2 linked regions of the Homo sapiens genome follow. The protein of the gene in region 1 purifies or fractionates together with the protein of each later gene. This does not show direct contact. Each region holds a gene or a part of one and is shown on either strand. Other genes may lie near its edges.

Region 1 (4,840 bases):
GCCTGGTGGCACATGCCTGTAATCCCAGCTTCTCAGGAGGCTGAGGCGGGAGAATCGCTTTGAACCTGGGAGGTGGATGTTGCAGTGAGCCGAGATCGTACCATTGCACTCAAACCTGGGCAACAAGAGTGAAACTCCGTCTCAAAAAAAAACAAAACAAGCAGGCTGGAAAATGGGGAGGAGGACCTGATCAGAACTAAAGACCAGGGAGTGAGTCGTCTACACAAAAATAACAATAGGGAGGCTCAAGAGTCTATAATGTTTTTGTAGGGAAAAGTAAAATGAGAAAGAACATAGTGGAGGACTGAGCTTTGGGGAAGAGCCAAAGCTGGGCAAAGGGAACAGATGAACTTGTTAAAGGAGAAAAGCATGTAGACAAGGAATAAGAGATCTAGGATAGTATCACATGGGCCTCGAGAAGAGTTCTAGGAATGAGGCAGTGTAAATAGTGTAAAGCTGTAAAGAGGTCAAGGAGAATGAAGACTGAGCAAAAGTTGAACTTGGTAACAGCTGAACTTGGCAATTAGATCATTAGAGACCTTCAAGACCTTCAATAGGACAGAAATCATACTACTATTTGCATGCATTATTTTCCATCTCAAATGTTTTTTGTGTTTGAATAAAAGTCAAGAGAGATAATAGAAAAGTAGCTTTCTGTTGAGGTCTTTTCATCATAAAACTAGCAGTAACCTCAGTATTTAACACTTTTACCCTCGGAGATATGTGTAACCATTTTTCCCCAGTGGTGTGAGCCTTTGATATAGTCACTCCTTAGCAAGCACTACATGAAGCAACTTTTACTAAGCAATCAAAGATAGCTGATACTTATTTTTACTCTCAGTTTACCTCTCTGAAGGAGAATAAGCTAATAAAATATTATATGGGCTGATAAATTTCAGATTATTATATACAAGGCTGGGATACTCCCAGACGCAGGCTACTTCCTGGCAACTAATTTCCAGGTAAGGGATTGCATGACTCGTATCTCTCTCCACATTTTTTGCTCTTTTAGGTCTTGGCATGGTCACACCTATCAATGACCTTCCTGGTGCAGATACATCCTCATATGTGAAGGGAGAAAAACTTACTCGCTGTAAACTTGCCAGCCTGTACAGACTTGTAGACTTGTTTGGATGGGCACACCTGGCAAATACCTATATCTCAGTGAGTTCTTCAGCTTTCAATTCCTTTTTTAAAAAATTCCAGCTAGAAGGCAACTATACTCTTCTTACCTTTACCTGGAAGTCCAGTTTTCAGACTTATTCTCTAAACCTAGTATGCTAGATCACAACCAAATACTGATTTAAACCTTATACCCAAGGGAGAGGCTCCAATTCCCCCACCTTTCTTCTCCCCTTACTATCTATGTTGTTCCAAGTTCCTTTGGTTCAGACCAACTGTAGAATCTATCCAGGAAGAAATCCTTCTGGCAAAATTGTCCCTCTCCATGATAATTATGTCTGAGCATCAGTGGCTTTAAAAAGCATTTGAGGCAAGGAAGATAGAGGAGGTCAGGGAAGTTTCCTCCCTGGTCTTTATTTTTAAAATATATTCTTTCCATTCACCATCATATTTTTATTTTGCCACACTTGGAAAAAGATGCTATTTGGAAACAAAAGAGGATTAAAATATTGTACAATGGAAATGGTACAGATGCAGTCCATCAAGAATCTTTCTTCCTTTCCACCTTCCATCTTTATTTTAATTCCTTCCTAGGAAGAGATTTTGTTCTCTTTCCTTTGCCCATTTTGCCTTAACTTCCAAGTTATAAATTAAGGTTATAATTATTACCACATTGGCTTGAATAATATTAGCATTTATTTTTCATGAACATAGCTGACCCTAAATAACCTTAGAGCCCCAAAATAACACTTTTAGGTAAGTCCAGTAAATAAGAAACTAAAGTCAGAATTTTTTAGCAAGTACTTGAGGGAAACTTTAGGAAAGTTTCATGTTGTAGACCTTTAATTTTTGCTTTGTTGGTTTTTTTTTTCCTGATCTCTTACAATTATTCATTGTAAATATATTTGTAGTCATGTTTCCACTGCAAAATATGAACCACTTCATAGTAATTCCCTGTTGTTTTTTTTTCCAGGTAAGAATAAGTAAGGAGCAAGACCACATTATAATAATTCCCAGAGGCCTATCTTTTTCTGAAGCTACAGCCTCCAATTTGGTATAATTTTCCATTCCTGTGTTGCTTTTTCTGAGCTTTCTTTGGCTTTTCTGACAGTTCTTAGCTTTTAGCACAGGACAGAATAAGAAGGTATGGATGGAAAAACATTTACTAGTGAACAGTGAAGGGAATTTGAACTATGTTGTTTTAGGGAAAAGCTTTAGAGAATAGCGTAATTGAAGAGACTAATAAATGAGTTGGTCTTATCAGTTAACTTGTCTATGTTTTGAAGGGAATCGTGATTTTTTTTTTTTTACCACCCTATACACTCAGAAATTTGTGTAAAAAAATTGTGTAAAAAAAACACACACGGCCAGGTGCAGTGGCTCACGCCTGTAATCCAAGCACTTTGGGAGGCTGAGGCAAGTGGATCACGAGGTCAGGAGTTCAAGACCAGCCTGACCAACATGGTGAAACCCCATCTCTACTAAAGATAACAAAAAATTAGCTGGGCGTGGTGGCACACACCTGTAATCCCGGCTACTCGGGAGGCTGAGGCAGGAGAATCGCTTGAATCCATAAGGTAGAGGTTGCAGTGAGCCAAGATCGCACCATTGCACTCCAGCCTGGGCTACAGGGCGAGACTCTGTCTTCAATACACACACACACACACACACACACACACACACACACACACACACACACACACACAATGTTCATAGCTAGATTTAAACAAAGTTCAGCTGGTATGAGTATAGGATCTGACCTTAGTATTTTATCTTTTCCATGACTACTCCTAGCCACTGTCATCAGCTTACAGAGTGACAGGAGCTACCTTGGTTCTGGGTGCTTGCTGCAATGTTAGCAAATAGAAGTTTTCTAGCCAATTCTATACATGCCAGACTTGTTCAGACCTCCGATGAAGAGCTTAAGTTTCTCCTTTTCTTGGAAACTGTACTTCTTGCCAAGTACCAAGTTTTGTTGCACCTGTTTTATAAATAAAGTTTTATGGGAACAAAGCTATACCTGTTAACTTACAGATTGTTTATGGCTGCTTTTGTACTGCAGCTGCAGATTTGAGTAATTGCAGCAGAGGCCCACAAAGTCCAAAATATTTGCTATCTGACCTTTTACAAAAAGGTTTGCTACCCCCTGGTTTAGCTTGTGAAACACAAACTTTGATACGTATATACCAGTTAAATATGTCCTTCTGATTTTTTCCAGGTGAAAGTCAATATAATAGGAGAAGTGGTTGACCAGGGAAGTACCAATTTGAAAATTGACCATACAGGATTCAGTCCCCATGCTGCAATCTATTCAACACGTCCTGATGTTAAGTGTGTGATACACATCCATACCCTTGCAACAGCAGCTGTAAGTCAATGAAAGTCCAAAACTGACAGGACGCTGGAAGATGTATTATTTTTGTGGCTTTCTCAACAGGATGCTTTACTATCTGCTTTTCAAAATCATATTTGATACAATAATCTGCATACCCAGAAAGCAAAAGGCCTTTGGGACCAAATGCTACCATTCTAGGAAACAACTGGAGAAATAACATTTGGATTCTAAAACTAACCAGTTTGAAAATTGGGTCATTGAGTTTTTTGGAGCAAAGCTTCTTTCATAATATTTGACACAGCATATAAGTTGAGTTGTATTCCCTAAGTCCTTTTTGTGTGTGTGTGGAAGAAACAAAATGGGAAGTGAATAAAGTGGGAAGTGGGCTGCAATGGTGAAACACAGTGAATAGGCCAGTGTTTTCCTGAGCTGACCAAACAATCAGGTTCCTATGAAAATGTATTTAGTAACCAAATGTGTTATCTTGGTATGGGCCAAACCAAATAGGTATCCTCCATGAAATGTGGGATCCTTCCAATTTCTCAAGAGTCTCTTCTTCTGGGAGATGTTGCCTATTATGACTACCAAGGGTCACTTGAAGAACAGGAGGAGAGAATTCAACTGCAGAAGGTTCTGGGACCAAGTTGTAAGGTATGTAGTAGAGTTTGTCTAAGGAGCTATTTTTGTTGCTGCTGCTGTTGATGAAAACAGTGTGAGCTATGCCAGTTATTTCAAGTGATTGCTGTGGGCATTCTATTTTAGGTGCTGGTACTCAGGAATCATGGTGTGGTTGCACTTGGAGAAACATTAGAGGAGGCTTTTCATTATATTTTTAATGTGCAACTAGCCTGTGAGATTCAGGTAGGAAACATTATTCCCCTTTTTTAATTGCTTTGTTATTTGCTCGTTTAGTTGGATTTTGTGTACTTATTTGCAAATACATATTAGTTAGTGGCTTTTTGTCTTTTAAGAGAAGTTCTGCTCTACTTATGTAGGCAGGGTTTTCAACTCAGTTATCTCTTGAATTGAAAATAGGAGTAAAGGAAATTAAAATTTTCTCACACACAATCTAAGGGCCTCATAAACATCATTTTCCCTACAATCCTGCTTTTTAAGTTAGTACAATTGCATATTTCTGTTTTCACCCTGTAGTGGTGGTACTAATTAAGGAAGAAAAACAGCTGCAAATCAAGAATCAAATGTGTTGTGGTCACTTTTGTAAAAAGTTTGACTAGGTCCAGAAGTTATATGAAATTGCAGTTTTCAACAATTCCACAGCCTCATTATGATGAGAGGTTGGATATTTATTAATCATTTTTTTCATCAGAGATGTTGAATGTATTTAAAGGCCCTAATTTTCTTTTTCTTTTTCTTTTTTTTTTA
Region 2 (4,840 bases), on another chromosome or scaffold:
TTATCACATTACTTAGATATGTACGGACAGAATACTAGGTAGGAACCCCTTGAGCTTTCAACTCGCGACAATACCAAAGTTTAGAGTTTACAAATGCAATACAGACACTAGCTAGGGATTAAAGCAAACCAACAAAATATGTCACTGGTGACACTTTTATGGGAAACCGTCAGTGTCTGTAGCCCGAGCACACACGAATGGCCCCAGGGCCGGCCCTTGGGAGTGAGGGGGCGGAGGGTGCGTGCCAGGGCCGTTTCCTCTCCCGTCTCCCATCTCAGCCCCTTAGAAACTTCCTTCCTACCACATGCTTGTGCCATCTTGGGCCTTGTCTGGGCTTGAACAATATCTACAGGAAGTCTTTACCCCTCGTCGGGAAAGCTGTGACTGTCAATACAAATGCAAAGGCAGGCAATGCACAGCTGCCTGACCCCTCAGATGAGCTGTGATAAAATACGATTCCTGAGAAAGCTCAGGCCCTGAGGGCATGGCTGGGAGTCTTGGGGTTGATGGGCAGATTGAGAGTGCTTCCTCCTGGGGTCCCACCACAGCCACTTCACAAAGGCCCCTCTAAGAGTCTGCCTGGGTTTTCTCTGAAGTACAGGATCGCTGCTGCATTTGGAGCTTCTTTCTGCTGCTTAATTTCCTCCATATAAAGATGCATGGGAAACAATCTAGGTGAAATATTAGTTGAGGTTGTCACATTGAATAATTCAAACAAAGCTGTTGGAACTTTAAATTCTGAGTCTTGAGAGGACATGTTTCACAGCTGAAACTTCTACTTTTTTTTTCCCTGTGAATAATTAAGACCAAACAGGATTGGAGATAAGGGCCCCCCAGGTCACTGTTCCTTTGCAAGGTTGTGATCCTGCTACAATTTCTACATAGGTGAAAACTTCACTAGTCCACTTTGGGCCCCATTTGTTTGAAGTCTGTGTTTCTGGGTGGCCACTGTCAAGCTTTTGTTCTGATAAACTTGATATACTAATACTTATTTATATTTTCTGAATCTCATTATTTAGGGTTGGCAAAGTAAATACAAGTTAATAGGAATAAATAAAGAGAAACAATTCCACAGGCAGGATATACAAACATGAACTAGAGAATAATTCCAAGCAGGTATAAAGGATAATTGGTTTCAGTGGGGCTGGAAACCACGCTATGTATTTTACTAAAGGCTACTAAAGTTGCTAAACTACAGGTTTACTGAAAATAGACAACTTGATTCTCCTCTTCATCCTGTTGTCTTCAGGCTAGGAGACTAGGAGATGCTCAGCCAGCCAAGGATGTCCCATGGGTCTCTACCTGGCCACCCTGAGAGGTCTCTATGCTGGCCTCACCCAAGAGGTCTCTATCCTGGCCACACTGGGGAGGTCTCTATCCTGGCCACCCTAGTCCTCCACTGTCCCCTGCATCCACAGGTCCCTGGATGGACTTGGCTGAGTTGGCTCTTCCCCTTTTCTCAGAATAACTGTAGAATGTGTCAAGAAAGCCACTTCCTGATGTAAGGAAGAACTGTCTGGACTGTCTAGAACCTGGGCTCTAGAACTGGATATCCTTTGGCCCAGTGATCCCAGTTTCCCAGGGTATAAGACTCAGAGAGGAATGCTTTCTGGGACCCCCCAGCTGCCGCATGACACAGGATACTTGCAGCCGATACTCCACCCTCCCTGCAGCTTCCCTGAGCCTGGGGGACCTCGCTGCCTGACTGTGAGTAATGAAGTGGCTCTGCTCGACTTGTGTGTGTTCCGTGTTGCAGAACTAGACCTGCGAATGCAGGTGGTGGAGGCTTGACTGCTGCAGCACTGGGTCTGCTCTGAGTCCCCGCCAGAGCTCAGCATACCTGCAGGTTTCAAGTCCTCTCGGGACACAGAAACTGCAGGGGCCAAGCCAGTCACTCCCTGATCTGAATGAAAGGACACTTCCTTGTGTCAGGGCCTTGCTTGCTGTTACACAAAAGGAGTTCCATGCCTCAGGAATTGTGGGCCCCAATGGGTGACGCGGCCATAAGCAGTCTTCACGCAGGCCTTGTCAGGGCCTTTCATGCCCGGCTATGCTCAGGGGCAAGAGTGCTTCTTTCAGAGACTAAGTGGGCCCTCAAGGAAGTTGGTGCAGGAGAAACTTCCACCCAGGGTTGAGGAAGCTTCCAGATGACACTACAGTAAAAAGTCAGCTGAGGACACTGAGTCCAGAGAGATGCTGAATTCAGAAACTGCATGCTTCTGCCCCGTGGACACTAGCCCAATTTTAGAACCCAAACCCCTATGATTCCCCATATTGCCATGCTAAGGAAGTCTCTTTTTGAAATTCAGGTGCTCATTTTTGGTAGATCATTTCTCTGGGTGCAGAAGCAAAGTGACAGGATGTCGGAGGAGCCCCTCACCTATCATGCACGCGAAGGTTTGGCCCTGTGAGAACAGCCACGGGACAGATTTCCTGCTGAATGAGGGCTCGGAAAAGCCCAGGGCCTACTGCATACTTCCTGTTGCCCACTCGTGAGCCAGTGCTGGTCTAGTGACTGCCACAGTGTAGGCCAAGGCCTTGGGAGAGGAATCTGCAGCCCTGTGGCTGAAGAGCTGGGTGATGCTCCATCTCAGGTCGTCCTGTGCACCGAAAGGCCAGGGCGCTGGAGAAGCCCTAGACCCTGCAGAGCAGCTTCTGCGTGCCCTGCCCACCTCGCCTGCCCCTTGAGAACCCCAGCTGTGCACCACCTGCGTCCTCGCTGCTTCCAGGCCTTTCCTGACAAGGCTCAGCTTTCACTTAGCCTCCCTCCTGACAGCCCAGAGCCCACAGGCCCGAAGGGAAGCTCCACAGGGCATTCCCTTCCCCAGCTCTCCCAGGAGGAGGGAGGAGGGGCTCTGTACCAGGCATCACCATGCCCAAGGAGCTGGCCCTACATTCATCCAGGCTCCAGAAGATGTGCCTGAGACCAGCCTTGGTGAAACTGCGGTTCCGGTCTCCATTCAGAGCAGCCCCACTTCCCCTTCTCTGGGTTTCATGCCTCAAGAGTCATCAGTTACAGAACAGTCCCCCATCCTGTGATTACGTTGCTGGAGTCAAGGCTCTATCAGAGACATTAATAGCCTGTGTCTTTCATTGCCTTAAAGAACCTAGTGGTCATGATGTTCTCAGAAGAAACAATATTGCCTTTCCCCCGGTAACATGAACTTGCTCAAATTGAAATCAGCTGACTCAACAGAATCATCATTTAAATGCAGCAAGCGGAACTCAGGGCACTTGAATCTTGTGATGAATTATTTCATAAGTTAATGTCTACAATGTGAGTGATTCTACTAATTTAACAGGTGTTAAGTATTATGAGCAGAGTTTCTTAATGCCTATATAAAGCCTGCTAAGGGGCTGGGCATGGAGGCTCACACCTGTAATCCCAACACTTTGGGAGGCCGAGGTGGGCAGATTACTGGAGGTCAAGAGTTCAAGACCAGACTGGTCAGCATGGTGAAACCCCATCTCTACTAAAAATACAAAAATTAGCCGGGCGTGGTGGTGGGCGCCTGTGATCCCAGCTACTCAGGAAGGGGAGGCAGGAGAATCGCTTGAACCCAGGAGGCGGAGCTTGCAGTGAGCCGAGATTGCTCCACTAAACTCCAGCCTGGGTAACAGAGCAACACTCTTTCTAAAAAAAATAATAATAATACAGCCTGCTAAGCGTTTCACATAGCTGACAGATTATTTCCTCCTCTTGTAAAATATATAATACTTGATCAAGTATAAAATATATATTTTCATAAAAAGGAATGAAGCACCCATATGTGCTACAGCATGGATGGACCTCAGAAGCATTATGCTCGGTGAAAGGAGCTCGTGACAAAAGGCCAGATGTCCTTCTGTGAGTCCATTTACATGAAATGTCCAGAATAGACAAATCCATTGAGACAGAAGGAAGACTGGTAGTTGTCAGAGGCCGGGGACAAGGGAGACTGGGAAGTAACTGCTTCATGGGTATGGGATTTTTTTGGGGGGTGAAGTTGTTTTGGAATTAGAGAGAGGTGGTGGTTACACAACACTGTAAATGTACTGTCACTGAATTGTACGTCACAGTGGCTCACGCTTGTAATGTCAGCACTTTGGGAGGCCAAGGTGGGGGGATCACCTGAGGCCTGGAGTTTGAGGCTAGCCTGGCCAACAAGGTGAAACCCCGTCTCTACTAAAAATACAAAAATTAGCCAGGCATGGTGGTGCACGCCTGTATTCCCAGCTACTCAGGAGGCTGAGGAGGGAGAATCACTTGAACCCGGGAGGTGGAGGTTGCAGTGAGCCGAGATTGCGCCATTACACTCCAGCCTGGGCCACAGAGGGAGACTCCATCTCAAAAAAAAATTAAAAAAAAATAAATTTTTTGAAAGACTAAAGATTATTTATTTTCTCCTAAATTCAATAAAATATTACTTTTTTCAATTATAAAATACATATAAAAATTTACCCTTTTATCCATTTTTAAGGTATTAAGTATATTCACATTGTTGTATAACTGTCACCACCGTCCATCTCCAGGGCTCCTTTCATCATGCAAAGCAGAGACTCTGTGCCCATTCAACACTAATTCCCATCCCCCTGACCCCAGCCCCTGGTGACTACTATTCTAGTTTCTGTCTCTATTAATTTGACTAAGAACCTCAGGTTAAGTGGAACCATATAGCATGTGTCCAGAGTGACTGGTTTATTTCACTTAGCACAGTGTTCTCCAGGTTCATCCATGGTCTAGCATGTGTCAGCGTTTCTTTCCTTTTTAGGGGTGAATAATATTCCATGTTGCGTACATCCTGCATTTTTTTATCCATTCATCTGTCAATGGACGCTTGGGTTACTTCCACCTTTTGAT

The links. The genes of interacting proteins can lie anywhere in the genome.
Region 2: the proteins of ADD3 (region 1) and MLPH purify together in Homo sapiens (affinity purification with mass spectrometry; one large-scale study listed by BioGRID and IntAct). This does not show direct contact.

What each region holds. Positions count from the first base shown.
Region 1 is NC_000010.11:110,115,247-110,120,086, forward strand, and holds part of ADD3 (gamma-adducin), read left to right. Parts: intron 1-1,012; coding exon 1,013-1,164; intron 1,165-2,095; coding exon 2,096-2,176; intron 2,177-3,340; coding exon 3,341-3,490; intron 3,491-3,964; coding exon 3,965-4,108; intron 4,109-4,219; coding exon 4,220-4,318; intron 4,319-4,840. UniProt on the Homo sapiens protein: Membrane-cytoskeleton-associated protein that promotes the assembly of the spectrin-actin network. Plays a role in actin filament capping. Binds to calmodulin.
Region 2 is NC_000002.12:237,527,858-237,532,697, reverse strand, and holds part of MLPH (melanophilin), read right to left. Parts: intron 1-4,840. UniProt on the Homo sapiens protein: Rab effector protein involved in melanosome transport. Serves as link between melanosome-bound RAB27A and the motor protein MYO5A.